Linked DNA regions of Homo sapiens. The protein of the gene in region 1 purifies or fractionates together with the protein of each later gene. This does not show direct contact. Each region holds a gene or a part of one and is shown in the gene's direction. Other genes may lie near its edges.

Region 1 (9,446 bases):
ACTCTATAAATGTTTTGAAACTGATAATACGTATTATTCATCCCATGGAATTACTATCTGGAGGGACACACTATGGGAAATATTTCTCTCAAATGCATACCATCATTCATGTTAGAAGATGGTCAGGATATTACACTCCGAACACCACTCTCGACTGTACCACAGAATTCTCAGAGTACTTCAGAAATGGGAGCTGAGTGTGGATGATTACCCAGAAGAGGACTTGCTTTGGCTCTGGCCAGCTCTTTGACTTAGAAAGCCAAGGAGCTATAGGAAGAATGATCAGTAGAAATGACAGGCTAGGCCAGGTGTGGTGGCTCATGCCTGTAATCCAAGCACTTTGGGAGGCCGGGGCGGGCGGGTCATCTGAGGTGAAGCATTCAAAACCAGCTGGCAAACATGGTGAAATGCTGTCTCTACTTAAAAAAAAAAAAAAAAAAAATTAGCCAGGGATGGTGGTAGGCACCTGTAATCCCAGCTACTTGGTAGTCTGAGGAAGGAGAATTGCTTGAACCCAGGAGGCAGAGGTTGCAGTGAGCCGAGATCATGCCATTGCACTCCGACCTGGGCAACTAGAGTGAGACTCTGTCTTAAAAAAAAAAAAAAAAAAAAAAAAAAAAAAAAAGGACAGGCTAGAGCTGTGGCCCATGGAAAAGAAATCACAAACTTGGGTCCTATATTTATCAACTAGGTGGAATATATAGTCTCCTTCCAGTCTTTTTGTCTGCCTGTATATTTTTTCACTATTGGTAAAATGGTGATGGCACTAGTCATGATAACAACATACTAGAACTGTGGGAATAATATGGGCTTTGCAGTCAAAGATGTGTGAGTTCAAATCTGCCTCTGCCATGTATTAGTTGAGCAACATTAGGCAAGCTATTAATATACTGATTCGATTAAGCTTTAGTTTCCTCTCCTGTAAAGTAAAAATTTAATACTTATTCTTCAGCATTATTGAGAGTCTTGAATGAGATTTTAAAAAGGTGCCTGTATTCCTGATAAATGCTGGCTGTCGTTATTATTATCTAGCAGAATGCTCATTCCACAGAGGCAGGAATTTTTGTTTGTATTGCACTTTGATGTATTCTCAACAATTAGAACAATGTCTGCCACGGAAGAAGTGCTCAGCAAATATTTGTCAATTATTGGATGGATTGTTATTATTATTAAGACCTCTTGCAGCTCTTTTATGAAGCTATAAACCTGCGCAAAAGGAACTTAGCAAAATGCCTTAAGGAAAGGGATGTTCTTTGTGTTGATACCGGACACCCTTGTCTTCTCTAAAGAGTACATTTACCCTCCTTTTACCTAGATATTATTACTCTCAGAAACCAGTACACAAGAAACCTACAATGCTTAGCTATTTCAGTCTTGTCTTCCTAAGTAGACTATAACTTCTTGGAAGGCAGGGAATATTTTTTCTTTCCTTTTTTACTTTTGTATATCCTCATGCTACTTAGTGTGTACTACTTTTTACATGTCAGCTGGGCACGGTGGCTCACACCTGTAATCCCAGCACTTTGGGAGGCCGAGGTGGGTGGATCACGAGGTCAGAAGTTCGAGACCAGCCTGGCCAATATGGTGAAACCTTGTCTCTACTAAAAATACAAAAATTAGCCGGGCATGGTGGCAGGCACCTGTAATCCCAGATACTTGGGAGGCTGAGGCAGGAGAATGGCTTGAACCTGGGAGGCAGAGGTTGCAGTGAGCTGAGATCATGCCATTGCACACTAGCCCGGGTGACAGAGTAAGACTCCGTCTCAAAAAAAAAAAAAAAAAAAAGAAGAAGAAGAAGAAGAAGAACTAACTACATGACAGGAACTGTTTCAAAAGCTTTGCCTACATGATCTAACTTCATCCTCACAATATCTCTGAGGCCTCAGTATTCTCATTATTCCTATAGGACAGAGGAAGAAACAGAGGAATATAGAGGTTAAGGAAGAGCTGTAAATAGTAGAGCTGACATTCGAACATGGGTAATCTGACTCTAATGCCTTGTACTCCTTTAAAAAGTGGTAATAATTAAGAAAATAAGGCCGGGAGTGGTGACTCACGCCTGTAATCCCAACACTTTGGGAGGCCGAGGTGGGCGGATCACCTGAGGTCAGGAGTTCGATATCAGCCTGGCTAACATGGTAAAACCCTGTCTCTACTAAAAATACAAAAATTAGCCAGGCATGGTGGTGGGCACCTGTAATCCCAGCTACTCAGGAGGCTGAGACAGGAGAATCACTTGAACCCAGGAGGCAGAGGTTGCAGCGAGCCAAGATCGCACCACTGCACTCCAGCCTGGGCAGTAGAGTGAGAATCTATCTCAAAAAAAAAAAAAAAAAAAAAAAAAGAAAAGAAAAGAAAAAGAAAAGAAAATTAAAAACAGAGATTAGTTTTTCTTCTACTTTGGTCTTCTTTGACTCAAAAAATATTATCTCTTCTTTCCTAACCCTTTACAGCCATATTATGGGAAGTAGGTTTCCCATTTTTCTGAAGAGGAGTTTGAGATACCTGCATCTCTCTCACAAAATCATATACTACTGGGAATCTCTCTCTCTCTCTCTTTGAGACAAGGCCTGGGTGAGTCTGTCACCCACGCTGGAGTGCAATGGCACTATCTCCTCACTGCAACCTCGGCCTCCTGGGCTCAAGTGATCCTCCCACCTCAGCCTCTCAAGTAGCTGGCATGCGCCACCACATCCGGTTAATTTTTGTATTTTTTTTAGAGATGGGGTTTCGTCATGTTGCCCAGGCTGGTCTCAAACTCCTGTCCTCAAGCAATCCTCCCACCTTGACCCCCCAAAATGCTGGGATTACAGGCGTGAGCCACCACGCCCGGTCGAAAGTGCCATTTCTTTAGCATTCAAAAAAAGTATCTTAGGCCGGGTGCGGTGACTCACACCTATAATCCCAGCACTTTGGGAGGCCCAGGCGGGCGGATCACTTGAGGTCAGGAGTTCAAGACCAGCCTGGCCAACATGGTAAACCCCGTCTCTATAAAAATACAAAAATTGGACGGGCGTGGTAGCATGTGCCTGTAATCCCAGCTACTCGGGAGGCTGAGGCACGAGAATTGCTTGAACCCAGGAGGCAGACGTTGCAGTGAGCAGATATCGTGCCACTGCACTCCAGCCTGGGTAACACAGCAAGACTCCGTCCCCCAAAAAAAGTGTCTTCATTCATCTGAAATGTGTCAGTGTTACCACAGCGGGAACCGGCATTGAGGAAAATCAGGTTTTCTGGGAAAGACTTGGAGGTGGGAACTCAAGAAGTTATTCTCAAAACTGTGAGCTGGGAATCAAGACAGCGTGACTCAATTCAGCACCGTGGACAGAGCTGCTGGAGCCCTCAGGACCCTGGACAGAGAAGCAGGCCGCGCATTCCCGGGGAACCGAATTCGCATCACTTGAGAACCCACCTAGAGAAGCCAGAGCGTTCAACTCCCCTTTCCCTCCCTTTTCTTCAGCCAGACCTCAGCCACTTGCTCCTGAGTCTTAGGAACAGAGGTACACGGAGCGAATATATTTTAAGGGCGCCACTAACAGCGGGAGATAAGACTTTTGGGAGAGGAGAATTATGTAAATAAAAATGGCTTTGGCTGATGTACTAGGAGAACTCTTGATAATTCTAAATTAGAGTCCTCAGATGGGAGTGGGGCACTGCTAATAATATTTGTTAACGATATGTATTTTTTAGGCGGAGCAGCAAAGGGCCACTCTTGTCCTTTTTACCCCACGAAGTCCCACCTCCCATTCCTTACGCTCAAGTTTTCATTTCTTGGAGAGCACCCCGTACGAGAGAAAGGGAAATAACTTCTGCAGTCTCTTGCTTTCCTCCCCATCTTCCCCTTCCCTACCCCCACTCATCCGGTCTCTCTGAAATACACATGTGCCCACATCCGCACGTGCACACACACACACACACAAACACACACACAGAGCCACAGCGTGAGAATTCCAAAAGGTTCTGCACACTCGGTGGAGAAGATTGAATTCAGAGCAAGCGGATGCCCCCGAAAGCAGGCTCTGTCCCTTTAAATGGGTTGTAGTGGTGGGGGAGGGGAACTGGCCGGAGCTGGCATTGTCCAGTTTGAACTGAACACCGGAAGTGAAGGGGCAGGGCCAGGGCCGTGCACTGAGCCCCGGGCCATTGTCCATCTCCGACCAGGGCAGTAGCCACCCCCACTAGCCAGCCGTCTTTATCTCCTAGAAGGGGAGGTTACCTCTTCAAATGAGGAGGCCCCCCAGTCCTGTTCCTCCACCAGCCCCACTACGGAATGGGAGCGCATTTTAGGGTGGTTACTCTGAAACAAGGAGGGCCTAGGAATCTAAGAGTGTGAAGAGTAGAGAGGAAGTACCTCTACCCACCAGCCCACCCAGTCCCTCTCTCAGCAGTGGATGGGGATGGGGTGGGGGTAGGACGAGAAGGCAGCTGGTGGAGAAACAGCTTCAAGACTCTTTGGGTTCCTCCTGCTCTCCAGGGAGCTTACCTGGGGCTAACTTTAGACACACAGGTTTGGAGGGAGGAAAGAAGGAAGAATTCTTTACAACGAATCAATTAAGAGCACTTTCTCTTTTCTAACTGGGGGAGGCCCAGAAAAACTCTGAGTCAGAAACTCTGGGAGGCAGACATTCAGATGTAGTCAGAGGCAGACAGACTTTGGAAGGCAGCGCTTTGGTCAGGACAGATCAGCCCTGTGTGTCCCCAGCCTCTCCCCTGCTCCCCCATCCCGGGCTTCCCAGTGTCCAGAACTCCAGGTCTATCTAAGCACACGGGGGTGGGGGGTGAGAGCGGGTCAGCTCCAAGCAGCCGGGTCAGCTCAGAGGCCTGAGGGGGAAGAGAGGGGGAGGGGAGCTCAAGGGCTGGGGGAGGGGGAGGGCCCATTCATTTCTCCCTTGACAGGTGGTTTGTGTTTCTGATTGGCCAGCGCCGCCAGGCTCACACCTCCCTCCCCCAACTCTCTGGAATGTATAATTATCTGCCCGGGGGGTGGGGGTGGTGTGTGTGTGTGTGTGTGTGTGTGTGTGTGTGTGTGTGCAGTCACGTGGTTTTAAAACTACCCCCCCCACCAGGTCCCCCACCTGTATCTGCTTTGGGGACCCCTACTGAGTCCAAAGTGCAGGATCTCAAATTCCGGGGTACTCAAGTCTTCTAGGGCAGACAGACCCATCTCCAGTTGTGCGTGTGGGGAGGGGGTGTCAAACCTCAAGGTTCTGAGAAGGGACACCCCAGAGGTGTCAGAGACCGGAGTTGTGGGGGAGGGCCGGAGCTGGAGCCGGAGGGAAAGGGAGGGGAAAGGAGAGGGAGGGGAGGGGAGGGGGCTGCCCGCGGGGGGTTGGGTCATTGTCTTTTAGAATTTGGGAGCCTTTGAAAAGCCGTGGGCCCTCCCACCGCTATTGTGCGGGGGAAGATGTAGCAGCTTCTTCTCCGAACCAACCCTTTGCCTTCGGACTTCTCCGGGGCCAGCAGCCGCCCGACCAGGGGCCCGGGGCCACGGGCTCAGCCGACGACCATGGGCTCCGTGTCCAACCAGCAGTTTGCAGGTTCGAGCTCGGGACTTAGCGGGGACACTTTAGGATTCAGGGGCGGCCAGGAGCCACGTAGAAGGGAGGTGGGGAACTGAGTCCTAGGCTGCCCAAAGGACCCCAAGACGGTGCGGCCTTCTGCTTCATAGGGCCGTCTCTGGGGCCAGGAACCTTGGTGTCCCAGTGGCGTGCGCGCCAGACTACGTGGGTGGATGGAGAGGAGAGGCTTGTCCCGCCGTGAGTCTCTGGGAAACGCGTTGTGGGAAGAGGAGCAAAACTTTCGGGGCACTACTGTCCCGGTGTACGCTAGGGGAACGCGGGAGGCGACCGGGATAGGTTTCTTCTCTTCTGTTGCTTGGTAGCTGCCCCCTCCTGGCTGTCCACTTGTGGGGCTGGATACTCGGGTCTCCCTGCCTGGGGCCCGAGACGGCCCTCCGATTCCGTGCCCCCCAGCTAAGTGCCCGGCCCTCCCTCTCTCCAGGTGGCTGCGCCAAGGCGGCAGAAGAGGCGCCCGAGGAGGCGCCGGAGGACGCGGCCCGGGCGGCGGACGAGCCTCAGCTGCTGCACGGTGCGGGCATCTGTAAGTGGTTCAACGTGCGCATGGGGTTCGGCTTCCTGTCCATGACCGCCCGCGCCGGGGTCGCGCTCGACCCCCCAGTGGATGTCTTTGTGCACCAGGTGAGACTGATTCCGGTAACTTTGCCCAGGGAAGGGCGTCTAGGCGCCCATATCCACGGGTGGGCTCCGGGCTCGCAGTTGAATTGAGGGCCATCGGGAGCCCTCATTATGCATCCCTGTCTTTGCTTCGGCACCCCAATTCTGAGTCCCTGTTAACTATCTCGTGGGGGAGTAGTGGGAGGCAGCACCAATTATCAGCACCCCCGCCCCCTTCCGGGAACCCCTCCGGCTTACCACGTGTCTATTACCTCTTTCCCCTGGGAAGGGGCAGGGGGCAGGGAGGTGACCCCATGTGGCAGAAACTAAGGTTGTATTGTGCTTGCCGGTGGGGGGAGGGCGAGCAGGCCGGCCAGGGAAGCACATGCCGGGCCTAAGCCGGGAGCCCAGCTCCTCCAACGTCTGAATGGAGCTCAGAAGGCGGGAGAGAGTGAGGGCAACTGGCTACTGGACCCAAGGGGCGTAAAGCCGAGAAGTCAGCCTCATCCCCTTTTTAATGCAGACCTCACCTGGCTGGTCACTAAAAACTGGGTTTGGCAGATCCCTGAAGGATCCCTGTGGGGGCTTGAAAGCTCAGGACTGGGGTCTTTGCTGTCCAGTTCCCGTGAGGAAGGAAAACCCAAAGAGCCCAGGCCTTCCTTACATTCCTGGGCCAGGCTGGGAGGGAAGTCGGTAGGTCGCAACCCCAAGTTCTCAGTTAAAGCAGGGCAGCACAGTAGGGGGTGAAATTCAGTGTCGCAGGGCAGGGGGTGAAGGGAGGCTGGCCTCTGGTCCTATTCTCCGCTTGGCATTTATGGCCCCAGACAGCCATTGATTGCTGTCTTAACATTCCTGGCCTCAAACAAGGAGCCAGAGACTTCAGGTCTCCCTCCTCCCAGGCTTCCCCTTCCTGAATATCCTAGAGGCATTCCGGTGGTCCTGGGCCACCAGCTACCCATAAAGACCATGGAAAGGAAGTTGCTTGCTGCCTATGGCCCTTCCATCTTTGGAGGTTTGGGACTGGATCTGGAAAGAAGAAATTGCTAATCCCAGATCGTGTAGGTTGACACCCAGGCCGGGCAGGGAGGGGTTACTTAAGGGAGGTTGGCTTTAGGAGGTGTGGGGGAGGGGAAAGGAGGATGTGGGGATTAAGGGTTGGAGCCTGAAGGGATGGCATTCTTTGGGGGAGGGGTAGAGAAGGGAGATGCTGGATGGACTAGTTGGAGGCAGCAGGGACGTCTTTGAGCACAGCCTTCAGTGAGGAACAAACAAGGGAAATAGACGCAGGGAGATGGGGAGCCACCACTTACTGTTGGGGCCATGGGGTCAGTGGGCTACTTGAACATCTGCCAAGAGGACCTGCAGCAGGATACTGAGCTGCCCCTTTGCAGCACCCTTATTCCCCCAACCCCCCATTAGACAGCTAGTTTCCCACTAGTGGCTTTTCTCCCTTCTCTGTCTCATTTACATATGTGAATGATAACCCACAGGAAGTAATTGTGGGAGAAAGAAGGGAATTGGCCTTTTTAGATCTATTAAATCACTTTATTACAGGAACCAGCTTTGAATGGCCCTCCTCAGCAGGGTAGCAAGCCTCCCCCACTCTCCCATTTATCTGATCACAAAGAGATTAAAATCTTTCCTGGTCTGGGGACTGGACAGCTCCCCCAACTTTGGGAGGCTGGAATAAAAGAGTCAGACCCAACGTTTTCTCATCTCCCATCCAAAGGCTGCCAGATAGGGAGGGGCTGAGGGGAATGTATCCCCTCATCTTCTGGGTTCCTTGGTGATATACATACCCCAAGGAAGGTGTTTTCTTGTTTTGTTTGTTTGTTTGTTTGAGCAAATGGGGACTTGGGCCTCAGCAGGCTTCACCTTAGGATCTAGAGCAATTGGGAAACTATTGGATGGCATAGAGCAGGCATTGAGTCTACACCATGCTGGGTCAGATGTGCTGGCTTGGAAATACTCTGGATTTTAGGCTCTTGGAACATCCAGGAACCCATAGTTGAGTAAGTTGTCAATAGGGAGCTGAGCTGGAAGAGAATTAAGAATTTGTCTCTCTAATCCCCAGCTCTTCCCATTCTACTCACAAAGCACAATGATGGGTGGAAATTCCCTGAGCCTTTACCTGGTAGCTCTGATAATGGTAGCATGCCAGAAAGGCTTGGGTCAGGGGTCCTCCAACCCCACCTTAACCGTAAGTTAGATTAGTGATTCCAGTCTTTGCACTTGTTTTTTTGTTTGTTTGTTTGTTTGTTTGTTGCTTTTTTTTTTTTTTTTTTTGAGATGGTGTTTGGCTCTTGTTGGCCAGGCTGGAGTGCAATGGCATGATCTCCACTCACCGCAACCTCCGCCTCCCAGGTTCAAGCGATTCTCCTGCCTCAGCTTCCTGAGTAGCTGGGATTACAGGCATGTGCCACCACGCTCGGCTAATTTTTTGTATTTTTAGTAAAGACGGGGTTTCTGCACGTTGGTCAGGCTGGTCTTGAACTCCTGACCTCAGATGATCCGCCCGCCTTGGCCTCCCAAAGTGCTGGGATTACAGGCATGAGCCACCACTCTTCTGCATTTGTGAAATTAGAAATGACTCTCTGGAAATCTTATGGTAAAGGAATTTAGTAAACACAGGATAAATTGTTTACTGGGGGAGGAGGAAAGTGTTCCCGAAGCAGAGGGTAAGAAATCTTTAACAAAACTTCCCATTCTTTGGCTGCTGGGGTTGGGCACCCTGGGGTTGGGGTGGGCTGGTGAGAAGGTAATTGTCCTAAGATAGCATCTACCAGAGGGAGGGGGTCAGGGAGCCCCTTTGCAAATAAAGAGGAAGGGGGAAAGGCAATTTAAAAACATTTTCTTTTCCTTTCCAAAGTTGGGGTTATTAGGATCCCAATGCCCTGTTAACTAATGTTCTTATGCTCTCTCCCAAATGCTGTAATATCCTCTTCAAGAGTAGATGAGTGGGGGGAAAAGCCCACCCCCAGCCAAAAACTAAGCAAAACGACAACAAAACAAAAAGCAAAGAGATTTCTATAACAACTCTTTTCCTTAGGTACACATCTTTAGATCTAGAAATCTGCCTGTCTCTAGAGTTAGGGAAATAGATAGCAAGCCCTTAAATTAGAGTTTCTCGACTTCAGCACTATTGACATGTTTTGAGCAGGATAATTTGTTCTGGGGAGTCTGTCCTATGTATTATAGGATGTACAGCAGTATTCCTGGTCTCTACCCACTAGAAGCCAGTTGCATCTTAGGTATGACAACCAAAAACATCTC
Region 2 (8,595 bases), on another chromosome or scaffold:
AGCTCTTTAATTTAATTAGATCCCATTTGTCAATTTTGGCTTTTGTTGACATTGCTTTTGATGTTTTAGTCAAGAAGTCTTTGCCCATGCCTATATCCTGAATGGTATTGCTTAGGTTTTCTTCTAGAGTTTTTATGGTTTTAGGTCTTACGTTGAAGTCTTTAATCCATCTTGAGTTAATTTTTGTATAAGGTGTAAAGAAGGGGTCCAATTTCAGTTTTCTGCATATGGCTAGCCAGTTTTCCCAATGCCATTTATTAAATACGGAATCCTTTCCCCATTGCTTGTTTTTGTTAGGATTGTCAAAGATCAGATGGCTGTAGATGTGTGGTGTTATTTCTGAGGCCTCTGTTTTGTTCCATTGGTCTATATATCTGTTTTGGTACCAGTACCATGCTGTTTTGATTACTGTAGCCATGTAGTATAGTTTGAAGTCAGGTAGTGTGATGCCTCCAGCTTTGTTCTTTCTGCTTAGGATTATCTTGTAAATTACTTTGGGCAGTATGGCCATTTTTATGATATTGATTCTTCCTATCCATGAGCATGGAATGTTTTTCCATTTGTTTGTGTCCCCTCTGATTTCTTTGAGCAGTGGTTTGTAGTTCTCCTTGAAGAGGTCCTTCACATCCCTTGTAAGTTGGATTCCTAGGTATTTTATTCTCTTTGTAGCAATTGTGAATGGGAGTTCCCTCACAATTTGGCTCTCTGTTTGTCTATTATTGGTATATAGGAATGCTTGTGATTTTTGCACATTGATTTTGTATCCTGAGACTTTGCTGAAGTTGCTTATCAGCTTAAGGAGATTTTGGGCTGAGATGATGGGGTTTTCTAAATAGACAGTGATGTTAATCTGCAAACAGAGACAATTTGACTTCCTCTCTTCCTATTGGAATACGCTTTATTTCTTTCTCTTGCCTGATTGCCCTGGCCAGAACTTCCAATACTGTGTTGAATAGGATTGGTGAGAGAGGGCATCCTTGTCTTGTGCCGGTTTTCAAAGGGAATGCTTCCAGCTTTTGCCCATTCAGTATGATATTGGCTGAGGGTTTGTCATAAATAGCTCTTATTATTTTGAGATATGTTCCATCAATACCTAGTTTATTGAGAGTTTTTAGCATGAAGGGGTGTTGAATTTTATCAAAGGCCTTTTCTGCATCTATTGAGATAATCATGTGGTTTTTGTCATTGGTTCTGTTTATGTAATGGATTACGTTGAACCAGCCTTGCATCCCAGGGATGAAGCCAACTTGATTGTGGTGAATAAGCTTTTTGATGTGCTGCTGGATTTGTTTTGCCAGTTTTTTATTGACGATTTTCGCATTGATGTTCATCAGGGATATTGGCCTGAAATTTTCTTTTTTTGTTGTGTCTCTGCCAGGTTTTGGTATCAGGATGATGCTGGCCTCATAAAATGAGTTAGAGAGGAGTCCCTCTTTTTCTATTGTTTGGAATAGTTTCAGAAGGAGTGGTATCAGCTCCTCTCTGTACCTCTGGTAGAATTTGGCTGTGAATCTGTCTGGTCCTGGGCTTCTCTTTTGGTTGGTAGGCTATTGCTGCCTCTATTTCAGAACATGTTATTGGTCTATTCAGGGATTCCACTTCCTCCTGATTTAGCCTTGGGAGGGTGTATGTGTCCAGGAATTTATCCATTTCTTCTAGATTTTCTAGTTTATTTTCATAGAGGTGTTTATAGTATTCTCTGATGGTAATTTGTATTTCTGTGGGATCGGTGGTGATATCCCCTTTATCAATTTTTATTGTGTCTATTTGATTCTTCTCTCTTTTCTTCTTTATTAGTCTGGCTAGCAGTCTATCTATTTTGTTAATCTTTTCAAAAAACTAGCTCCTGGATTCATTGGTTTTTTTGAAGGGTTTTCGTGTCTCTATCTCCTTCAGTTCTGCTGTGTTTTAGTTATGTCTTGTCTTCTAGGTTTTGAATTTGTTTGCTCTTGTTTCTCTACTTCTTTTAATTGTGATGTTAGGGTGTCGATTTTAGATCTTTCCTGCTTTCTCCTGTGGGAATTTAGTGCTATAAATTTCCCCTTAAACACTGCTTTAGCTGTGTCCCAGAGATTCTGGTATGTTGTGTCTTTTTTCTCATTGGTTTCGAAGAACTTATTTATTTCTACCTTATTTTTGTTATTTACCCCGTAGGCATTCAGGAGCAGGTTGTTCAGTTTCCAAGTAGTTGTGCATTTTTGAGTGGATTTCTTAAACCTGAGTTCTAATTTGATTGCAGTGTGGTCTGAGAGACTGTTTGTTATGATTGCCATTCTTTTGCATTTGCTGAGGAGTGTTTTACTTCCAATTATGTGGTCAATTTTAGGATAAGTGCAATGTGGTGCTGAGAAGAATGTATATTCTGTTGATTTGGGGTGGAGAGTTACGTCACTGTCTATTAGGTCTGCTTGGTCCAGGGCTGAGTTCAAGTCCTGAAGATCCTTGTGAATTTTCTGTCTCGTTGATCTGTCTAATATTGACAGTGGGGTGTTAAAGTCTCCCATTATTATTGTGTGGGAGTCTAAGTCTCTTTGTAGGTCTCTTAGAACTTGCTTTATGAATCTGGGTGCTCCTGTATTAGGTGCATATATATTTAGGGTAGTTAGCTCTTCTTGTTGCATTGTTCCCTTTACTATTATGTAATGCCCTTCTTTGTGTTTTTTGATCTTTGTTGGTTTAGAGTCTGTTTTATCAGAGACTAGGATTGCAACACTTGCTGTTTTTGCTTTCCATTTGCTTGGTAAATATCCTCCATTCCTTTATTTTGAGTCTGTGTGCGTCTTTGCACATGAGATAGGTCTCCTGAATACAGCACACTGATGGGTCTTGACTCTTTATCCAATTTGCCAATCTGTGTCTTTTAATTGGGGCTTTTATCCCATTTACATTTAAGGTTAATATTGTAATGTGTTATTTGATTCTGTCATTATGATGCTAGCTGGTTATTTTGCCCATTAGTTTATGCAGTTTCTTCTTAGTATCGATGGTCTTTACTGTTTGGTACGTTTTGCAGTGGCTGGTACCAGTTTTTCCTTTCCATATTTAGTGCTTCCTTCAGGAGCTCTTGTAAGGCAGGCCTGGTGGTGACAAAATCTCTCAGCATTTGCTTATCTGGAAAGGATTTTATTTCTCCTTCACTTACAAAACTTAATTTGGCTGGATATGAGATTCTAAGTTGAAAATTCTTTACTTTAAGGATGTTGAGTATTGGCCCCCACTTTCTTCTGACTTGTACGGTTTCTGCTGAGAGATCCACTGTTAGTCTGATGGGCTTCTCTTTGTGGGTAACCCGACCTTTCTCTCTGGCTGCCCTTAACATTTTTTTCTTCATTTCAACCTTCGTGAATCTGACGATTATGTGTCTTGGGGTTGCTCTTCTCGAGGAGTATCTTTGTGGTTCCTGAATTTGAATGTTGGCCTCTCTTGCTAGGTTGGGTAAGTTCTCCTGGATAATATCCTGAAGAGTGTTTTTCAACTTGGTTCCATTCTCCCTATCACTTTCAGGTACACCAATCAAACATAGAGATTTGGTCTTTTCACATAGTCCCATATTTGTTGGAGGCTTTGTTCGTTCCTTTTCATTCTTTTTTCTCTAATCTTGTCTTCACGCTTTATTTCATTAAGTTGATCTTCAATCGCTGATGTCCTTTCTTCCACTTGATCAATTCGGCTATTGATACTTGTGTATGCTTCACAAAGTTCCCTTGCTGTGTTTTTCAGCTCCATCAGGTCATTTATGTTCTTCTCTAAACTGGTAATTCTAGTTAGCAATTCCTCTAACCTTTTTTCAAGGTTTTTAGCTTCCTTGCGTTGGGTTAGAACATGCTCCTTTAGCTCCAAGGAGTTTGTTACTACCCACCTTCTGAAGCATACTTCTGTCAATTCATCAAACGCATTCTCCGTCCAGTTTTGTTCCCTTGCCGGCGAGGAGTTGTGATCCTTTGAAGAGAAGAGGCATTCTGGTTTTTGGAAATTTCAGCCTTTTTGTGCTGGTTTTTCCTCATCTTCTTGGATTTATCTACCTTTGGTCATTGTTGTTGGTGACCTTTGGATGGGGTTTCTGTGTGGACGTCCTATTTGTTGATGTTGATGCTATTCCTTTCTGTTAGGTTTATTTCTAACAGTCAGACCCCTCTGCTGTAGGTCTGCTGGAGTTTGCTGGAGGTCCAGTCCAGTCCCTGTTTGCCTGGGTATCACCAGCAGAGGCTGCAGAACAGCAAAGATTGCTGCTTGTTCCTTCCTCTGGAAGCTTTGTCCCAGAGGGGTACCCGCCAGATGCCAACCAGAGCTCTCCTCTATGAGGTGTCTATTGACCCCTGATGGGAGGTGTCTCCTAGGCAGGAGGCACAGGGGTCAGGGACCCACTTGAGGAGGCAGTCTGTCCCTTAGCAGAGCTTGAGCACTGTGCCGGGAGATCCGCTGCTCTCTTCAGAGCCGGCAGGCAGGAACGTTTGAGTCTGCTGAAGCTGTGCCCACAGCCGCCCCTTCCCCCAGGTGCTCTGTCCCAGGAAGATGGGAGTTTTATTTATAAGGTCCTGACTGGGGCTGAGGCAGCATTTTGTTTCCTTTTTTTGTCTTGGAGTGTTCATTCTTTATTCTTCACTAGACTGAACTTAGTTCTTAATCGTTCTTTTATCCTCAATATATTAATAGACTCTTGCTATCATAGGTCCTTATATTGTGAGTTAAGTGAATGAATTGTTGCTATCTTGGGAATTACTGCTTAATTTTTGTTTTCCTTCTAGGACCTCGACTGGATTTTGATCCTGACATTGTTGCAGCTCTTGATGATGATTTTGACTTTGATGATCCAGATAATCTGCTTGAGGATGACTTTATTCTTCAGGCCAATAAGGCAACAGGAGAGGAAGAGGGAATGGATATACAGTATGTGTGGTTTGTTTCAAAGCAGAGATGATGACCTAAGTGTTACTGCTTCAGTGGGATGGTAACCATAGAACGTTACAGTTGGAAGAGACCTTCAAGAGCATTTAATCTGAGACTTCTGTATTTTAGAGCAGAAAATGTGAGATTCATTGCTTTTCCTACCAAACCAGATTGATCAAACACCCTCACTCTTCCTGCCTAGACAAGAACCCTTCCTGAAATACCTTCCAATTTTACTTGTGTAAAGTGGTTTTGTTCTGTTACTTTTTAAGTTGTTTTGGTAGGTAATTTATGACCTTTACTTTAGGAAATCTGAGAATGAAGATGACAGCGAGTGGGAAGATGTGGATGATGAGAAGGGAGATAGCAATGATGACTATGACTCTGCAGGCCTATTGTCAGATGAAGACTGTATGTCTGTGCCCGGAAAAACTCACAGAGCTATAGCAGATCACTTGTTCTGGAGTGAGGAAACAAAGAGTCGCTTCACGGAGTATTCGATGACTTCCTCAGTCATGAGGAGAAATGAACAGCTGACCCTACATGATGAGAGGTTTGAGAAGGTAAGGTCCCCACATAAGGGATGCTTTAGTACTATCTTATGTTAAATTTTTTTTTTTAATACCTGTCAGCTTTAGCCCAGGTTGAAGTGCTCACCAACCACAAAGTCAATCATAGGAAGTTTACAACTATCCAGCTATAGGTTCGTGTAGCCAGCATAAAGCAGAAGGGTATCAGTGCAGTACAGGAGCACAAAGACTGCAAAGGGAGCATAGAACTGTGCAGAAGAAGAGTAATTGGTTAGGAGGATGTGACTTTTCCAATTTACATCACACGCTTACACCAGGAGGTGGCTCAAATGATGCCTCATTCAACCTGAATGGGTAACCAAAAGTAGCTGTAATAGTTTTATTCTCACTAACTGTGGTAGGACAACTCACTTGAGTTTCTATTTGGCCCTTAAAACCCCCAGAAGTGGCCCTTAAACCCTCACCATCTCTAATGTTGTGCTTCTTTATTATGTATGTCATATATGGATTTGTCTCAGATTAGAATGTGAATCCCCCAAGGGCAGAGAGTTTTTTATATTTTGCTCACGATACATCTGAAAGCCTAAAATGGTGTCTTGGCATGTAGTAGAAGTTTAAAGTGTTCCATAAATGATAAATGAATGAAGGAATAGTTTCCTTCAAGGTGACTCTAAAGATAGAAGCAGTCCACTCAAGGACCTTGACGAAGCCGAGCGGGTTGAGGTTGATCTGGAAACTGGAACATCCTCTGGCCAAGTCAGCTGATCCGCCCGCGAGCTAAGTAGATGTTAGGCGCCTTGCTGTGTGCCTTGTTTTTTTTTGTTATTTTTCTTTTTTTATTTTTTAAAAAGAGAGATTGGGACCCAAAGCTAAAACTTTTGAGTGTTGAAAACAGCGTATCTCTTTATTAAAACAGAGCATAAAAGCACCTTAGTTATTGTCGTTTTCCCTTTACATATTCTATGAGGCCAGTCACCCTAGTTTTGATTCTGGAAAGAACGTGTGTAGGTCAAAAGGAGTTGGCTGATCAAACGTTCTTATTTTCCCCCTTGAATTCTGACATCCTGATTCTGAATTTCTCCAACAGTAATCCATAAGATGCTATATTTCTGAAGTATTGGCCTGATTGAGCACATCAAAATTCCATTTCTTTCCGTTTCTCATCTGGTGTTTTCAGACATAACTAACACTGAGGAATAGAATGGAAGTAGAGTATAAGACACTTTTGAAAGCTTGTATTTTCATATACTCTATTTGGTTCTGTTGTAACAGATTAGCTCCAGGGTTTATAATCCCAACCTATAGACTGTTTATACAGGTTTTTAATCCCACCTATCCTGTTGTTTGTTCTGTAGCACATAACACCTCCTAACATCATCTCTAATGTTGTGCTTTATTATGTATGTTATATATAGATTTGTCTCAGATTAGAATGTGAATTCCCCAAGGGCAGAGAGTTCTTTGTATTTTGCTCACGGATACATCCAAAAGCCTAAAATGGTGTCTTGGCATGTAATAGAAGTTTAAAGTGTTCCATAAATGATAAATGAATGAAGGAATAGTTGCCATCCAGGTGAATCTAAAATAAAGGCTGTTACCTTGCTACCTTCTCACCTAATACTATTTTCCCTCTTCTCTTGAGGGAGAAACAAACTGTTGCTACAAATCTCACTCTTCAGGAGATATATCCCCCCCATTTACTCTTTGTCAAAGCTTAACAGTGTCAACACCATTTGCATAATATAGTAATTATTGTCTAAACAAGAACAAATATATACATTAGTAGGTGAATTTTCAGTTGCACAATCTTTTAGTTTGCATAACTAAGGAATATGAAAATATCTTTAGTCTAGGCGTAGTGTCTCGTGCCTATAATCTCAGAACTGTGGGAGGCCGAAGCAGATGGATCACTTGAGCCTAGGAGTTTGAGACTGTCTTGGGCAGTGCAGACCCTGTTTCTATTTAAAAAAATAAATAAAATGGCCTGGTATGGTGGCATGTGCCTGTGGTCCCAGCTGCTTGAGAGGCTGAGGTGGGAAGATTGCTTGAGCCTGAGAGTTTGAGGCTGCAGTGAACTATGATCACGCCACTGTACTCCAGGCTGGGAGACAGTGAGATACTTAAAAAAAAGAAAAAGTATCTTCAAAAATGTTCTGACGTAATCTGTGCTGCCTAGCATTTTGTTCTCCAAGCTGAGTGGAATAATGCCTTTCATTTACATGTTAAATGGAAGCCTATTTTTAGGCTAAATGTAAGTCTTAAAGTACTGAGCAGAAATATCTTCCACATCCTATTGTTGCATTAAATCCCTACTGATATTTTAATGGTAATTGTGATAGTACCTGAATAACTATTGTGTAAGAATAAAGTTAATGTAAAAAAATTTTTAAGTGTGTAGTCTTACTGAGTACATTTGCTTTTCATGGTATCTTTTCTCTGTTTATATTCAAGTTTTATGAGCAATATGATGATGATGAAATTGGAGCTCTGGATAATGCAGAATTGGAAGGTTCTATTCAAGTGGACAGCAATCGCTTACAGGAAGTTTTGAATGACTACTATAAAGAGAAGGCAGAGAAGTATAGTGACTTTTCCTTCCTTGTTTAGCTGTTCTTTTTTTTAAAAAAGAAAAAATTCCAAAGAAAGGTCTATAGTATAACTGAATTGAGGAAAAAATTAACCTAGTCAAAATACATATTGAGAAAATGAAAAAGGAAAAAAGAAAAGGGGAAAAAAAAAGATAGGGCGGAAAAAAGAAAGTGGTACATTTTCCATAAACTTGGGTCATGTATAGCTCATTGTTTTGCCTACATTTTGGTGTTAAATGTTCTGAAGTAGAACGTAATGGGAATATACGAGGAGCCACTTTCTCCGTATCTTTGACTGGAGAAGAGTCATGGTAGAATGTGTATTCGTTTATTAAATTTTTTTTTTTTTTTGAGACGGAGTCTTGCTCTGTTGCCCAGGCTGGAATGCAGTGGTGCGATCTCAGCTCACCTGCAACCTCCGCCTCCCAGGTTCAGGTGATTCTCCTGCCTCAGCCTCCTGAGCAGATGTGATTACAGGTGCACACCACCATGCCCAGCTAATTTTTGTATTTTTAGTAGAGATGGGGTTCCACCATGTTGGCCAGGCTGGTCTCAAACTCTTGACCTCATGTAATATGCCTGCCTCGGTC
Region 3 (8,595 bases), on another chromosome or scaffold:
TCACTTAAGGACTTTTTACTGTGTTGGTACTTGTAATTTTACCACATTTTCAAAAACATCTGTATGATATGAATATACTGTTATTTAACCATCTCTTCCCGCAATTAGATAATTCTAATTTTCTATCTGTTAGAAACGGAACTTTCCCATGCCAGTGGTTCTCAACTACAAATGATCATCTCTCTGCCCCAACCCCCGTAGACATTTGGCAATGTCTGGAGACATTTTTAGCTGTTAGAGTTGAGAGAGAGGCATGCTACTAGCATCTAGTAGGTACAGGCCAGGGAAGTTAGTAAATTTCCTACAATGCACAAGACACCCCATCCACAACAAAGAATCTGGCCCAAAAAGTCAGTAGTGCCAAGGGTAAGAAACATCACTCTTGACCCATGTATGAGACTATATCTGTAGATGTTACCAGGAGTAGATGTTACAAGAAATACAGTTCTTGAGTCACAAGGTGCTCAGCATTTTGCTGACCAGTTTGCTCCTACCAAAAGTGTTGAGTGTGCCTTGTTACCCATCATCTTGCCCATATTTAATTTTTTCTATCTCAATTTTTGCAAGTCTAGAAGAAAATGACATTCTTTTAGCTGGCAGACATATAATTACTAGTGAAATTAAACATCATTTTGAGTTTATTGGCCACTTGCTTTTCTTGAAGTAGAATTGCCATCTGTCCAGGTTCCATTCCTATCACTGTTCGTTGCAGACTTTCCTCTATCAAGGAGGCAAAATGTGGGAAGAACCTTGCAAAGGGGAAGCAGATTGGTGAAATCTGCTCATCCAATGAATGAAGAATGATATACTGTGCAGAATAAGCAGTTCAACTTGGCTTATGGGATTCCAACTCCTCTCTTGGCATGCCCTCCAGTTCCTATTTGTTTTAGAGCAGATTGAATCCAGGCTCTTTGTCATGAGACATTTGTTCTGTGGCATCTGAAAGGAAGCTGTAAGCACAAACAGCTTGGGTAGAATGAAAAGATGTCCCCGCTTGGTTGGATTGAGGAAAGAGAAAGGGGAATGTTCCTAGAATTAAAATTTGCCTCTTAAGGCATTAATGTTGACAGCTTATTGAAAGTTTATGCTCTTGAGGGAAGTGAGTCATCTGCTTTGCCCTGAAGCCCTATGACTTTGCATTTGGTAATTACAGACTCCACTGTGAATACACGCTTACTGCTCTCGTTTTCCTCTCTGCTTGCGCCCACTATCAGAATCGATGTCCACCGTAAAGAAAATGCGGGGGCTGCTGAGAAGTCGATTACTATCCTCTCTACTCCTGAAGGCACCTCTGCGGCTTGTAAGTCTATTCTGGAGATTATGCATAAGGAAGCTCAAGATATAAAATTGTGAGTAAAGAAGATTGTCCTGTGAAAGAGGTTGATATTTGTGCTCTTGTATTTTTGACATCTCTGACACAATTCTTGGGAATTGCCAACAAACAGAGGGAAATGATATCCTGATGAGCTACAGTGGTTGGCACTGTTGATCTGGTTGTGAAGTGTATGTCTTTTAATATTTAAATATTTTCATTCACATTTGAACATAGGCGAGTGGTGATAACGGGGAAGAGAAATGCAGCTATAGAAGAAGGCAACTTGGGGAACCTAGGACCAGGAGGTATCCTGGATTAACCCAAAACAGGAGCCCCAAATCTTGACTCATCCTTTACTCGGAGCTCATTGGAGCTCTGTTCTTGTCCACTGCCTGGCCCCACCTTGGAGCAGCAGGGAGTGTGGAGGTGGGGAAGTGCCTAAGTCTCTTCTAAGGCAAACTGGAGATTTATCTGGGTAATGCAGGCGGGAACTCTATTTCTTCCACAGGAACTTTGAGTGAAGGTTGGGTTCTGTGCCACGTTTAGCGTACAGAACAGCGCTGCACTGAAAGTAGAATCGAGAGTAAGGCACTGGAGTTAGTGTGGGGACCTCATTACCAACCTTAATTTGTAGAGAACTTTAAATATGTTTTAGTAATATTATATGTGGGTGCCATATCATAAGAATGTAATTATTAAAGTAAAAATTTTAAAGAAGAATTATTTTAGTATAGAGAAAAATAGGCCTGGTGTGGCGACTCATGCCTGTAATCCCAGCACTTTGGGAGGCCGAGGCGGGTGGATCATGAGGTCAAGAGATCAAGACCATCCTGGCCAACATGGTGAAACCCCGTCTCTACTGAAAATACAAGAATTAGATGAGCGTGGTGGCATGTGCCTGTAGTCCCAGCCACTTGGGAGGCTGAGGCAGGAGAATGGCTTGAACCCGGGAGGCGGAGGTTGCAGTGAGCCGAGATCGCGCCACTGCACGCCTGCCTGGCGCCAGAGGGAGACTCTGTCTCAAAAAAAAAAAAAGAAAGAAAAAGGAAAAGCCCACCATCTATTAACCACAATGACATTTTAAACAGTTTTATATATATATGACTGGGAAATTCAGAAAGCTACAAAATGAAAAGTGAAAGCTCCCCTTCCTGTTCTTATGCCCTTCCCCCAAAGTGTAACCACTGTTGTTTCTTCTGTTTCCTTCTATAAATTATGCACATATCTCCAGGTGTATATTTGTACTGGATGGTACTGTTTTTTATTTGTACGTTGTGTTCTGGTAGTAGGGGTTTAGGAATATGGTTTTGAGTAAGAGACTCCATCACTGAAGATATTTCCTGAAGTGAATAAAATAAGAACTATTTTAGAAGTTAACTTCTGTATTTTTTCTCCCCTTCTATTCATGCATTGCTAGAATGCTGGCCAATTGTCAGCAAGTTTTAAGCTGTACCTAACACAGTGCTTCCCAGATGGTAGGTAGGAAGTAAATGTTTAATGAGTGAATATTGTCTTTTTACCCACGAATAGGTTTACTTATTCTAATTTTATGGCCACTTTTCTATTTACAGCACAGAAGAGATCCCCTTGAAGATTTTAGCTCATAATAACTTTGTTGGACGTCTTATTGGTAAAGAAGGAAGAAATCTTAAAAAAATTGAGCAAGACACAGACACTAAAATCACGATATCTCCGTGAGTGCTCCTTTGCTTTTGAATAAGAAAACTTTCCAACACTGTAAGCTGCATGTTGTGTATTGGGCTTAGCTTCCCACTTTACAGCTGCTTCAGCTAGCCTGTGCTGCCGTACTTACACATGGTTTCTCAAATACAGCTTGCTGCCTGTTAGGTTTCTGACCCGTATTGAAAGCATTATCTGCTTCTGGCAGGAGGAACCAAATGCTTTACATTCATGTTTTCTAAAGCAGTCTTAACTATGTTTTATGACATTTATTCCCAAAGTTGGAATATATAACCCAGTTTATTATCCATTGTCGTGTAACGCATTATCCCAACATTTGACAGCTTAACACAATGTGAACATTAATTGCTCAGCTAGTTTTTGTGGGTTAGGAATGCAGGAGCAGCTTAGCTGGGTGGTTCTGGCTTGGGGTCTCACAATGCTGCTGACAAGTTGATGCTGGCTGTTGGCAGAAGGCCTCAGTTCCTCCCACATGGGCTTCTCCACAGAGCTGCTTGAGTGTTCTCAAGACATGGCAGCTGTCAAGATGGAAACTGCAATGTCTTTTATGACATAGCCTCAGAAGTTATACTCTATCATTTTTCTAATGTTGTTTACACAAGTCAGCCCTATTTGGTATGTATGTGTGGGACTACAGATAACTGGGTGACAGGAATCACCTTGGAGGCAGGCTACCACACTTAGAATCTGTGGATGCTCTGAAATTACGTGGAAAGGTTTTTCTGAGGGTGGCCATTCTTAGTTTCACTCAGAGTACTCAAAAAGGTGGGAAAAGATTGATGAACTGAGGAAGAGTGGTAGGGGAAAGACTGCACGGTGTTTGTGTACAAGGAGTTTTCAAAGGAGGTAGTAAGGAAGCAGGAAACTTCTGTTTGGTTGTAAAGAAAGGGGGAAAAAAACCCCACAAAGTGGTAAATTCAATAAGTAATACTACTTTGTCTTAAATTTACCCCCAGAAAGGGGAGAGTTTTAAAAGAAAAAAATCTCAAAAGTTATTCTAGAAGCAGCTATTTTTAAAACTGTAATACAAAATGCTTGGCAGGGCCAGGTTGAGACTGAATTAGAATTATAGACTTCTTTTTAAAGTAGTCTAAGAGAAATAGTCTTCATTATACAAATGTTTACATTTTTAACAAGTTTGAGGAAAATGTTAAGGAATAACTTCCCATTCATCTGGCTCAAGGTTAGCCTGTGACATTATACTAGTAGTGAAAATGAGAACTTCAGGAAGATGAAGGAGATTTGTACCAATAATCCATATCCTCTCAATTTATGTACTTAGTTCTGTTTTCCATGGCACATGTCTCCCATTGCTTTTCCTCTCAAGGCTGTTGACCAGCATAGGCTTAGGTGTTTTCAGGTATGATATTCAGTGGCTTTTGAAGGTTCAGCAGGACCTAGGTCCCGCAGGGAGTTTCTGAATATTTCTGCCACTATCTAACGTTTTTGTTATCTAAATGGCATCGGTGAACCATTTTAAATTTTAGTCAAGATGGATTGATATTCCTCCAGCCTACTTCAATCTAAATTCTAAAGAAACTGGTAAAAACTAAGTTTAGACACAGGAATTCTGGCTTGTGTTTTTGGAATATTTCCATGCTTTCTCCTTGCTTGGTGACCCAGAAAATGCAATTGCACGAGAATGCCAATTATGCCTAGAATTGGTTAATACAGACTAGGAACATACTTATGAAAGGTTATGTACTTAGGGTATTTGGTTTCCTCAAAAACTATACATCTTTCCAGTCATTTTTTAATTCACTGTTCAATTGTGAAAATGGTTCAACTTTAAGCGGTTGAGAAGTAAGCTTTATTTAAAATATGGACTTGATTGAACTATATGTATCCAGTAATCGTTAGTTGAGAAAATGGGAGGGCAAATATTTTCTTCTCTCTTGCAGCTTTACAGTTTCGGATTTACGTCTTTTGGGGCTTACTCATTTCCCATCATGTTTTACCACCCACTTTTACATATTACCAGGCTCCACAGTTTGTTTTTAATTGCCGTCTGTGGCTGAATTATTAGCTGTCTTCCTCCAATTTTCATTCTTTTTCTTTCCCTTCTTTTTCATTCTGCAGATTGCAGGAATTGACGCTGTATAATCCAGAACGCACTATTACAGTTAAAGGCAATGTTGAGACATGTGCCAAAGCTGAGGAGGAGATCATGAAGAAAATCAGGGAGTCTTATGAAAATGATATTGCTTCTATGAATGTTAGTTTTGTTATGAAGGGCATGTCTTTATTTTAACAAATAGTTAAAACAATGTTTTTAACTGCATTAATATTGAATTCTTTTGTGGCATTATCACTAGAAGTAGTTCTAGTTGATTTTTAGCACCTCAGCAAGTACCCTGGGATAGTAGGGAAGATACTGGCTTTGACATTAAGCTTTGCTGTCTCTGTGACTTTAGCAAATTATTCAGTCTTTGAGCCTTAGCTTCCTTCTGTCTGAAGTAAGGCTAGTGTCTACCTACAAAGGTTAATATAGTACCTCTCTTACAATGTTAATTTGAGAGAGTTTAATATAGAAGAAATGTTACATGAACTGGATTTGAATCACAGCTGAACCATTTATGAGCTGCAGCTCTCTTCTCTTATATGATTTACTCAGTCTCTCTGAGGCTCAGTTTACTCATCTGTAAAATGGGACTACTGCCTACCTTGCATTCTTATTAGGATTACAATAGATATAATGCATATAAAAGTTAATGTTAAGATTACAGGTTTAAAACTTGGTTAGCCATATAAACCTTGGAGATACAAGAATTTCAATTGATAAAACAATCTGTGTAGTGCATCTGAGGCTATTAAAGCAAATTGCTGACATTCCTTAATCAGTGAAATGGTGCTGAAAATGGAATACTTCAAAAGCCTGTCTTAAATTTTAAAGTAAATGACTTTAAAAAATAATTTTTTTTCAATTGGGCCAGTCATCTGAAACACAAAACCTGAGACGAGGGAAATGTGCAAATACTGCGTTTGTGAGAAGAGCCTAGAATGCTAGCCATTTTACACCCCACGTGACTTCTTGCCAACCTGCTTCAATTCTCACTGCTTGGCTCCAAATGTTCTGGAATCAACTGGGATTAAATCTAACCCCCTTAGGCCTTTTAAAAAGATTTTCAAGTACACTCAAATCTCCCTTCCACCGTCTACATTACGTCCTCAACCCTTATAAAATTAAACAAATTAAAATACCCTTTCTGGCTCCTATTTCCATTCCAGTGATATGTTTACTTGCAGTAGTTACATGGGGATGGGTCCTGATTTCCAGAGGGCTCAACTTTGAGGCCTCTAGACCCATGGTTGCTAAGTTTTACCCAGCAAGTAAAGATCTCTTAATAGCTGGTTTGCTTTTCAATGAACCAATCTTACTTGATTACCTCTTCAACTCTGATACATTGCTTTTTGTCTATATTTAGTTTGCCCACAGCATGCAGAATACGGTTTTGTCTAAGTCCTGTGGGCTAGTCATAAGGGAAAGGAAAGCTTCCCTTGAGATATCTTAATGCAGCTGTGGACCAAGGAGGGGGCAAACCAGCACACAGATTTTAAAATACCAAGGGATATAAACAGATGTAAACGATGTACTCAAGTAGAGTCCCATGGAACATCTGCTTTGAGTTATACAATCATTTCTTTATTAGACAAGAGATCAGTTTGAATACTGTCACTTAAAAATGCTCACTTTCCCTTGATTCTTTTAATTGTCAAATTAAGGGGCCTTTTTACTGTTGCAGCTTCAAGCACATTTAATTCCTGGATTAAATCTGAACGCCTTGGGTCTGTTCCCACCCACTTCAGGGATGCCACCTCCCACCTCAGGGCCCCCTTCAGCCATGACTCCTCCCTACCCGCAGTTTGAGGTAAGATAACTGGCCTTGGCTTTCTTTGTGATTGGGCAAAATCTTAATGTAAACCTAGTCCCCGCGTGATCATCTGTTTAGATGCCAACATATGCTCTCCAGTTCTTGCTAATGGAGCCTTCTTATTTGGCCCTTTGTGGAGTAGACATGGGATTATTTTGCAGTTTTTGGATAGCGGGGTTGTCAACATGTGTTTTCAAATATCACAACAAAAGTTTGGGACTTTGAGGTGGCAGGGGAAGAAACTTAGTAATTGTTTTTCTTATTTAAAAAAATTTTTTTTCTTTTTTCTTTTTTCTTTTTTTTTTATTCTAAGTTCTCGGATACATGTGCAGAATGTGCAGGTTTGTTACATAGGTATACATGTGCCATGGTGGTTATTTAAAAGTTTTTGGAGACACAGTCCCACTCTTTCGCCCAGGCTGGAATGCAGTGGCACAATCTTGACTCACTGCAACCTTCACCTCCCGGGTTCAAATGATTCTCATGCCTCAGCCTCCTGAGTAACTGGGATTACAGGTGTGTGCCACACCACACCCGGCTACTTTTTTTGTATTTTTAGTAGAGACAGGGTTTCGCCATGTTGTTCAGGCTGATCTCAAACTCCTGGCCTCCAGTGGTCTGCCTGCCTCGGCCTCTCAAAGTGCTGGGGTTATAGGCGTGAGCTATTACCTGGCCAGTAATTATTAAATACTAAAGGAAAAGATTTTTTAAAGGCTTCTTTCATCTTTGTCACCTGAAGTCAATGGCTTTGAAAGGTCAGGAGTGACTCTGTGTGTTTTCCATGTTGAGTGTACTTTTTTAAACCAAAGAGATAAGATAGTTTTGTGCACAATTATATTGTGTGTGTGCGTGCATACATTAAGCAGATGTTTATTTTGTAAAGAGGTAGGTTATATAAGAAATAAATCTTAGGCCAAGTGCCATGGCTCACACCTGTAATCCCAGCACTTTGGGAGGCCGAGGCGGGAGGATCACCCGAGGTCAGGAGTTCAAGACCAGCCTGGCCAACATGGTGAAACCCCATCTCTACTAAAAATACAAAAAATTAGCCGGAGTGGTGGCAGGTGCCTGTAATCCCAGCTACTTGGGAGGCTGAGGCAGGAGAATCGCTTGAACCCAGGAGGCAGAGGTGGTAGTGAGCTGAGATTGCGCCATTGCACTCCAGCCTGGGCGACAGAGCGAAACTCTGTCTGGGAAAAAAAAAAAAAAAAGAAAAAGAAAAAGAAAGAAATATTTTATACTTGCTTTTTAAGAATAGCAGTTTCCTTGAGGTCAGAAATAGGAGACTAGTGATGGTATGAAAATAATCGCAGCACAGCAGACACCTGATGGAATAAATTATTTTGAAAGTAGTTAATAATTCAGTTGCATTATCGATAATCGGAGGTATTCATGTGACATTCTAGGATCTTCCTTCATGAATTTGTTTTGACATCTCTCCCTTTTTGTTTGGCTCACTTACTTAATATTAATATTTTGAGTGATACCTCTTACACCAATTTGGGGAAATGTCCAGGTGGAATAGGTTGGTGATTCCACTGTATTACTACCTAGAATAAATATGTAGAGTAAAATGACATTGAAATTGTACAGAAAATACAGATGGCTCAGATTGTCCCCCTTTTATCCTTTTAAAAATGAAAATTTCCTTTTCCTGTCCTTGAACCCACCAAACTGATTGGGGTTCTAAGCAGTTGCCCTCCTGCC
Region 4 (5,324 bases), on another chromosome or scaffold:
CCACATCAAAGGGTGATGCTGACCCCATGAGAGAGTGTGCATAAAACAGCACAAGGCTTGGCATGAAGAAACGCTTAATAACTTATAATTTATTTTTAAGGTTAAACCCATTCATTTTCTATATTTGGAGGTAGAAAGTAGGAAGTGTCTAGACGGGCCTGGCAAGGAAGAGGGCGTAGATAGTGCTTCTGATCACCTGTGACTCCTTCCTCTGTTGCAGCCCCCCATGGGTGAGGAGGGCAACCACAAGCGACACTCAGTGGTAGCAGGAGGTGGCGGCGGTGAGGGCAGGAAGCGGTGCCCCTCCCAGTCTTCCAGCAGGCCTGCTGCCATGATCAGCCAACCCCCTACACCACCCACCGGCCAGCCTGTCCGGGAAGATGCCAAATGGACAAGCCAGCACTCGAACACACAGACTTTGGGAAAGTGAAAAGCTCCTTAGCCCTGGGGCTTGAGGGGGGAAAGGGGTAGGGTGGGTAAGAGTCCATGGGGGTGCCCAGTCCCAGGAAAGGGGACAATGAAGGGACAGGCCTGGAGTTACTAGGACAGGCCTTTGTGCTGAGTAGCAATGTATACACCATTTGGGCTATCAGAGGTACCCCTGGGCAGGAGCCTCTACATCCCCTTCCCCCTCCTCTCTCCATGACTCTTGACATCCTAGCTTCTTCTAAGGGGGGAGGGAAAGGGGGGAGATTTTTATATATATATACATATATATATATCAAGTTTTAAATTATTGATAGTTCATCTGGATTACCAAAATCACTCTGCAGCCCTGCCCGAGGCTAGTAGGCTGCAACCCTGGTCCCCACCCCTAACCTCCTGCTCCCCCTCAAGCCAACTATGCAGCCCACAAGAAGGCCCTGCGGGCCCCCCCATTGCCCAGCACTGTCTCATAGAAGGCTCTGGTGGTACCTCTGGGCCCCAGGAGCATCAGCCCCTTGATCATCTGGGGTTTGTCATCACCATATTTTCTCCCTGCTGTTCCCACCATGCCCTTCTGCCATCTTCTGGGAGAAGGAAACCAAAGGATCTAAAACTGGGGTTTGGGGGAAGGTTTCAGCCTCTCCCCACTCCCCTTGCCCCACACCCTTTACTCCCCAGCCCAGAGAGACGCTGCTTTTACCAGGAAAGACTATTGAAAGATGTTTTATTTTATTTTTCTCTGACCTTTCCATCCTTGAAAAAATGGGGAAAAAAGAAGAAAAAAGACAAAATCGACCATAAAAGACCAAAAAAAAAAAAAAAATCAGAAAACCCCCACCTAATCCACAGAAAGTAATGTCTTTCCCCTCCCCTTGGAATTTTTGTTTTGTTTTTGGAAATAATATTTTTTTAAAAGTTGCCTTATTGTGGAGCGGGAATCTGAAATACCCAAATGCCTGTTTTCCTCGGTGGAGTCAACCCGAAGAGCTCCCACCTTCTCTGGATGTGCCTGGGCTTGGACTGGCTAGAATCTTTCTCTGGACTGTTGCATGTACAGTGCCTCCATCCTGGAGGCAAGAGAGTTGGGAGTGGCTCGAATCAGAGCCGTGCCCAAGATATCCCTGCTGTTGCATCGTTTGAAGCTGACGTCCTGTGTCTGTACACTGCTGCCACTGTTGTGTCCTCGCTCTGCTTGCTGTTGCCTCACGCCAGGCCCCGTCCTGCCGTGACACCCTTCATCCTACCCTTGGAACCCCAAGGCCAAGTTGGTTCAAACTGTTGGAGAACAGAGTTGGCCTGCATCTGGAACACACTTGTCCTCAGCTTACCATCTCCTCACACCCCAGAGTGGAAAGGTGAACACCTGCAGCTGAGGCTTGGAAACGTTTCTTGTGTTGCCCTGAAAAATCTTTGAGACCTCAGGGAGGCTCTGTCTCTCTTAAAAGGTGGAGAAAGATGCCATTCTCTCCCTAAGGTCTGGTGGAGTCTCCCCATCTTGCATACCCTTCTGCAAGCCATCTATCTCTGCTCACTCTCCAATTGACCCGCCTGGGAACAAGGGATGAGGAGGAGTTGGGGGCTGGGGGGAATCCTGCCAGTTGGTGAAGCCCTGTGGCAGGAAGGTATATGTGGACATAGAGTATACCTGATTCTCTTTCTTCAGCCACTGACTGCTTGGGTTGGGCTGTGAATGATAATGGAATGGCTGGAGTCTGCTGTTGTCAGAAGGCAGGGAGGGTGATGAAGGACTGACCCACATGGACTGGGATGTGTGTCGGTTATGGGCATGACTGCACGTTCACTCTCAGTGGGATCTGGGCAACATGGAGTTCATTGTCCTGTTGCTTACTTACTGCAATGTCTTTGGCCCTCCTTTTCAACTGGTTCCTCTGTTGGGCCCAAAGGTTGGGAGTAGGAGACAGTATCCCAGGCTGACAAGGGCTTGCCCTTTACCTTGGGCACCTTGTTAATTTTTAGCCTGTGCCCTTCCCCACCTTTGCCCTCCCAGTGGTTGGTATGTGGGAAGCCCATCTCAGTTCCTGTGACTTCATGTCTCAAACCAAGGATGAGCGTCTGGTCTCTGCTATGATGGTGGTATCCGAGGCCTTTCCCTGCCCAGTCTGGTGCCTGCCCCACATTGTACCGGACACTGGATTCCTGGACCCCCTTCTCCTTTCCTTTCTTTCCTTCAGGTCACGCAGCCCTGTACTGTATCCAGCACCACAGAAACCTCAGTGTTTTTCCTCTGCTGGTTTGGGGCACAAGGAAGCCTTAGGGTATGGGGAAAGGCTGTTATTACCTAGAGTTTACTCCCAGGCCAGGGGGCTGCCATCTTCTTCACAGACATCCCTGAAAGGAAGCCCCTTTGGGGCAGGGAGGTGAGGACTTCATCTCAACATCGGCTGGTGGTTGGTAGGGGAGCTTTTTCTTTTCTTTCCTTTTTTTTTGTTTTTGTTTTTGTTTTTGTTTTTGGTAACATGTTAGGAGTTAATGTTGCAAAGAGTAGTTTACATCTTCACTTTCTGAAGACACTTGAATTTAGGACCGATGTATCTGTGACAAGCATGCCAGAAGTGGCAGGGGCCATCAGGGCTAACCACTTCACACCTACCATCGTCCCATGGGGATCCAAGACCTGAGATAAAGCAACAGCCTGCCCAGATCCCTCTGTTCATCCTATCCCTTCCAAGGTTGGTCCATGCCAACATAACCTCTGGGCATCAGACATCAGCAGGTCTGTGTGCCTCAGCCCTGTTAAGGGGCAGGTTTCTCTTTAGCCCTCTTCCTGCACTTGGGAGCAAAGGCACTACCAGTAGAGAAGGGCCATCCAGCCGTGCCCCAGCCTGGACCCCTGGGGCTCAGATAGAGGTGCTGAGCCCCTGTGTCAAAGTTGTTAAATGTTTTTGTTTTGTTCCATTGTAGCTCTTTTTTTTTTTTTTTCCCCTTTCCTGGTGATTGATTTTACAAAAGAAAGTAAGCTGCTTAGAAGGCCCTGGAAGGGAAGTGAGGAGGAGGGACAAGGAAGATGACTAGTTACGGAGGGTGAGGGTTGTTTTTTGCCAAAAAGCCTGGGTAGAGTGATCTGAATTATCTGGCACCCTCCTGAATGGAACCCCAGAGTACCTCCTGTGTGGAAGGGTCCCTGGATTTTCCCTAACACCCACCCTCTCCCCCTTCAGCCATGCTGATGGCAGAGAAGATAAGAACTTGGAGCCCATTTCTCACTGGAGAGGAAAACTTGTCATCTGGCTTTGCGGAGAAGGTTCCACCTTACGCTCGTAGTACATTATCTTTACTATGTGCTAGGATATCATATTTAAAAGGACAAAAAAATGTAAAATACTTGAATGAGCTTGTATTATAACATTAATATTATTGAGAGTATCTGCTTTCCAGGCTGAAGTGATTCATTCATTATTCTAGTCCTGCTTTAGTCCTTTGTAATTTGTGGTAATTATGCTTTTCTTTTTAATACAAAAAAATGTATAAAAATAAACACTTGAAAAGGCAAAATACTGGCTGGTCTTCCATCTAGGTTACTGCTATTGGGTGTGAAGGATGGGTTTCTGGTAGAGTTCCCCCAGATCCGGAGGAACCCTGCACTCAATGTGCACATGAAACCTCGGCAGGGGTTCTGCCATTGGGCTTCGAGGAGTCTGCCTAAGGCAGGGGCTTCTACAAGCCTTGAGTTCATGTCCACCCTGTGTCTTAAGTGAGACGTGACAGTCATAGCCAGTGCCACAAAACAGCAGTCCAGCATAATGCCAGGATTTCAGCGCACTTGTCAGCTTCCAGGTTTTCCATCCCCTGGCTGTGGCCTGCATTGTGTTATGAGACAGCCAAGAAGAAAAACGATGAGGCTTCTTATGGAGGGTTGCCACAACCCCTCTATGAACAGACTTTTCCACAGGGGGGTGAAGGAGGAATGATCCAGCACCATGTGGACTTACGGAATCCTGGTCAGCCCCGAACCCTGAGATGTGATGCTGGGGAGGGATGGAACAAAGAGTCCCCCATTCCCCGTATAAATTACAAAACTAAAAATGGGGCATGGCCTTATTTACGTGTTCATCTGACAACTGTCTCCCATACCTGGCTTGGGTAAATGGTTTTTCCAGAGAGTGCTTTTTCACTGTTCTTGAGGTTGGCAGGTACTTCAGTACCACCAGTGACCTCCACAGGCCAAAGGAAAGTTTAGGAGATAGTGTCCAGGGCTGATGCAGACGGATTGGTACTTTGAAAACAGAAAGATGAATTAATTGAAACTTACTTTCACAAATTATCGTTAGGAATGCTCACAGCAGCTTAATTTCACAGCCTGAGCTTCCAAATGCTATGTCTGAAGTATTAGAAGTCTTGTAGTAGACACCTCCCTTCAAAAAAAAATTATCCACTGGAATTCATGAAGACCAGTTTATTTTACATGCTTGCTTTCACATTCTTTACTGGGAATTTAAGGCCTTTTTTCAGCCTTAACTTGTATACCAACCTCAAGGATTTTGTTTGATACAGAAAAGGATAGGGCTGGGCCCTTCTGCCAAGGACTGATAACCTGCCTGCCAAAAGGAAGAGGGAATGAAAGCCTTTTGTCCTTCTAGGCCCCTTACAGTACCTCAAAATCTAAAGGCCTTAAAGGGGAAAAAAACCGTATCTGTTCTTTCTCCTTATCTCCTACCCTTCTCTTTAAGCATATTGAAGATGGACTTTTTTCCAAATGTTTATTTGTAGGAAGAGGTGATGAGTGCAGGCCAGCAGCTGAGAACTTACAGCTTTGATGCACCAGGAACTGTATTCAAGCTGAGGGCAAAAGCCTCCTAGGGAGGGAGCCAGGTCCACCAAGGCCAGAGACAGACAGGCGAGACTGTGGAAGGCCAGGGAGATGCTGCCTGGTAAGTGCT

What was found.
Region 2: the proteins of LIN28A (region 1) and LTV1 purify together in Homo sapiens (affinity purification with mass spectrometry; 3 studies listed by BioGRID and IntAct, with this or other methods). This does not show direct contact.
Region 3: the proteins of LIN28A (region 1) and IGF2BP3 purify together in Homo sapiens (affinity purification with mass spectrometry; 4 studies listed by BioGRID and IntAct, with this or other methods). This does not show direct contact.
Region 4: the proteins of LIN28A (region 1) and LARP1 purify together in Homo sapiens (affinity purification with mass spectrometry; 5 studies listed by BioGRID and IntAct, with this or other methods). This does not show direct contact.

Annotation. Positions count from the first base shown.
Region 1 is NC_000001.11:26,405,386-26,414,831, forward strand, and holds the start of LIN28A (protein lin-28 homolog A), read left to right. Parts: upstream 1-5,431; 5' UTR 5,432-5,506; coding exon 5,507-5,537; intron 5,538-6,000; coding exon 6,001-6,197; intron 6,198-9,446. UniProt on the Homo sapiens protein: RNA-binding protein that inhibits processing of pre-let-7 miRNAs and regulates translation of mRNAs that control developmental timing, pluripotency and metabolism.
Region 2 is NC_000006.12:143,852,558-143,861,152, forward strand, and holds part of LTV1 (protein LTV1 homolog), read left to right. Parts: intron 1-4,745; coding exon 4,746-4,887; exon of another isoform or gene 4,888-5,024; coding exon of another isoform or gene 5,025-5,026; intron 5,027-5,194; coding exon 5,195-5,450; intron 5,451-7,868; coding exon 7,869-7,996; intron 7,997-8,595. UniProt on the Homo sapiens protein: Essential for ribosome biogenesis.
Region 3 is NC_000007.14:23,340,354-23,348,948, reverse strand, and holds part of IGF2BP3 (insulin-like growth factor 2 mRNA-binding protein 3), read left to right. Parts: intron 1-1,214; coding exon 1,215-1,349; intron 1,350-2,886; coding exon 2,887-3,009; intron 3,010-5,095; coding exon 5,096-5,231; intron 5,232-6,759; coding exon 6,760-6,885; intron 6,886-8,595. UniProt on the Homo sapiens protein: RNA-binding factor that may recruit target transcripts to cytoplasmic protein-RNA complexes (mRNPs). This transcript 'caging' into mRNPs allows mRNA transport and transient storage.
Region 4 is NC_000005.10:154,813,667-154,818,990, forward strand, and holds the end of LARP1 (la-related protein 1), read left to right. Parts: intron 1-220; coding exon 221-430; 3' UTR 431-3,939; downstream 3,940-5,324. UniProt on the Homo sapiens protein: RNA-binding protein that regulates the translation of specific target mRNA species downstream of the mTORC1 complex, in function of growth signals and nutrient availability.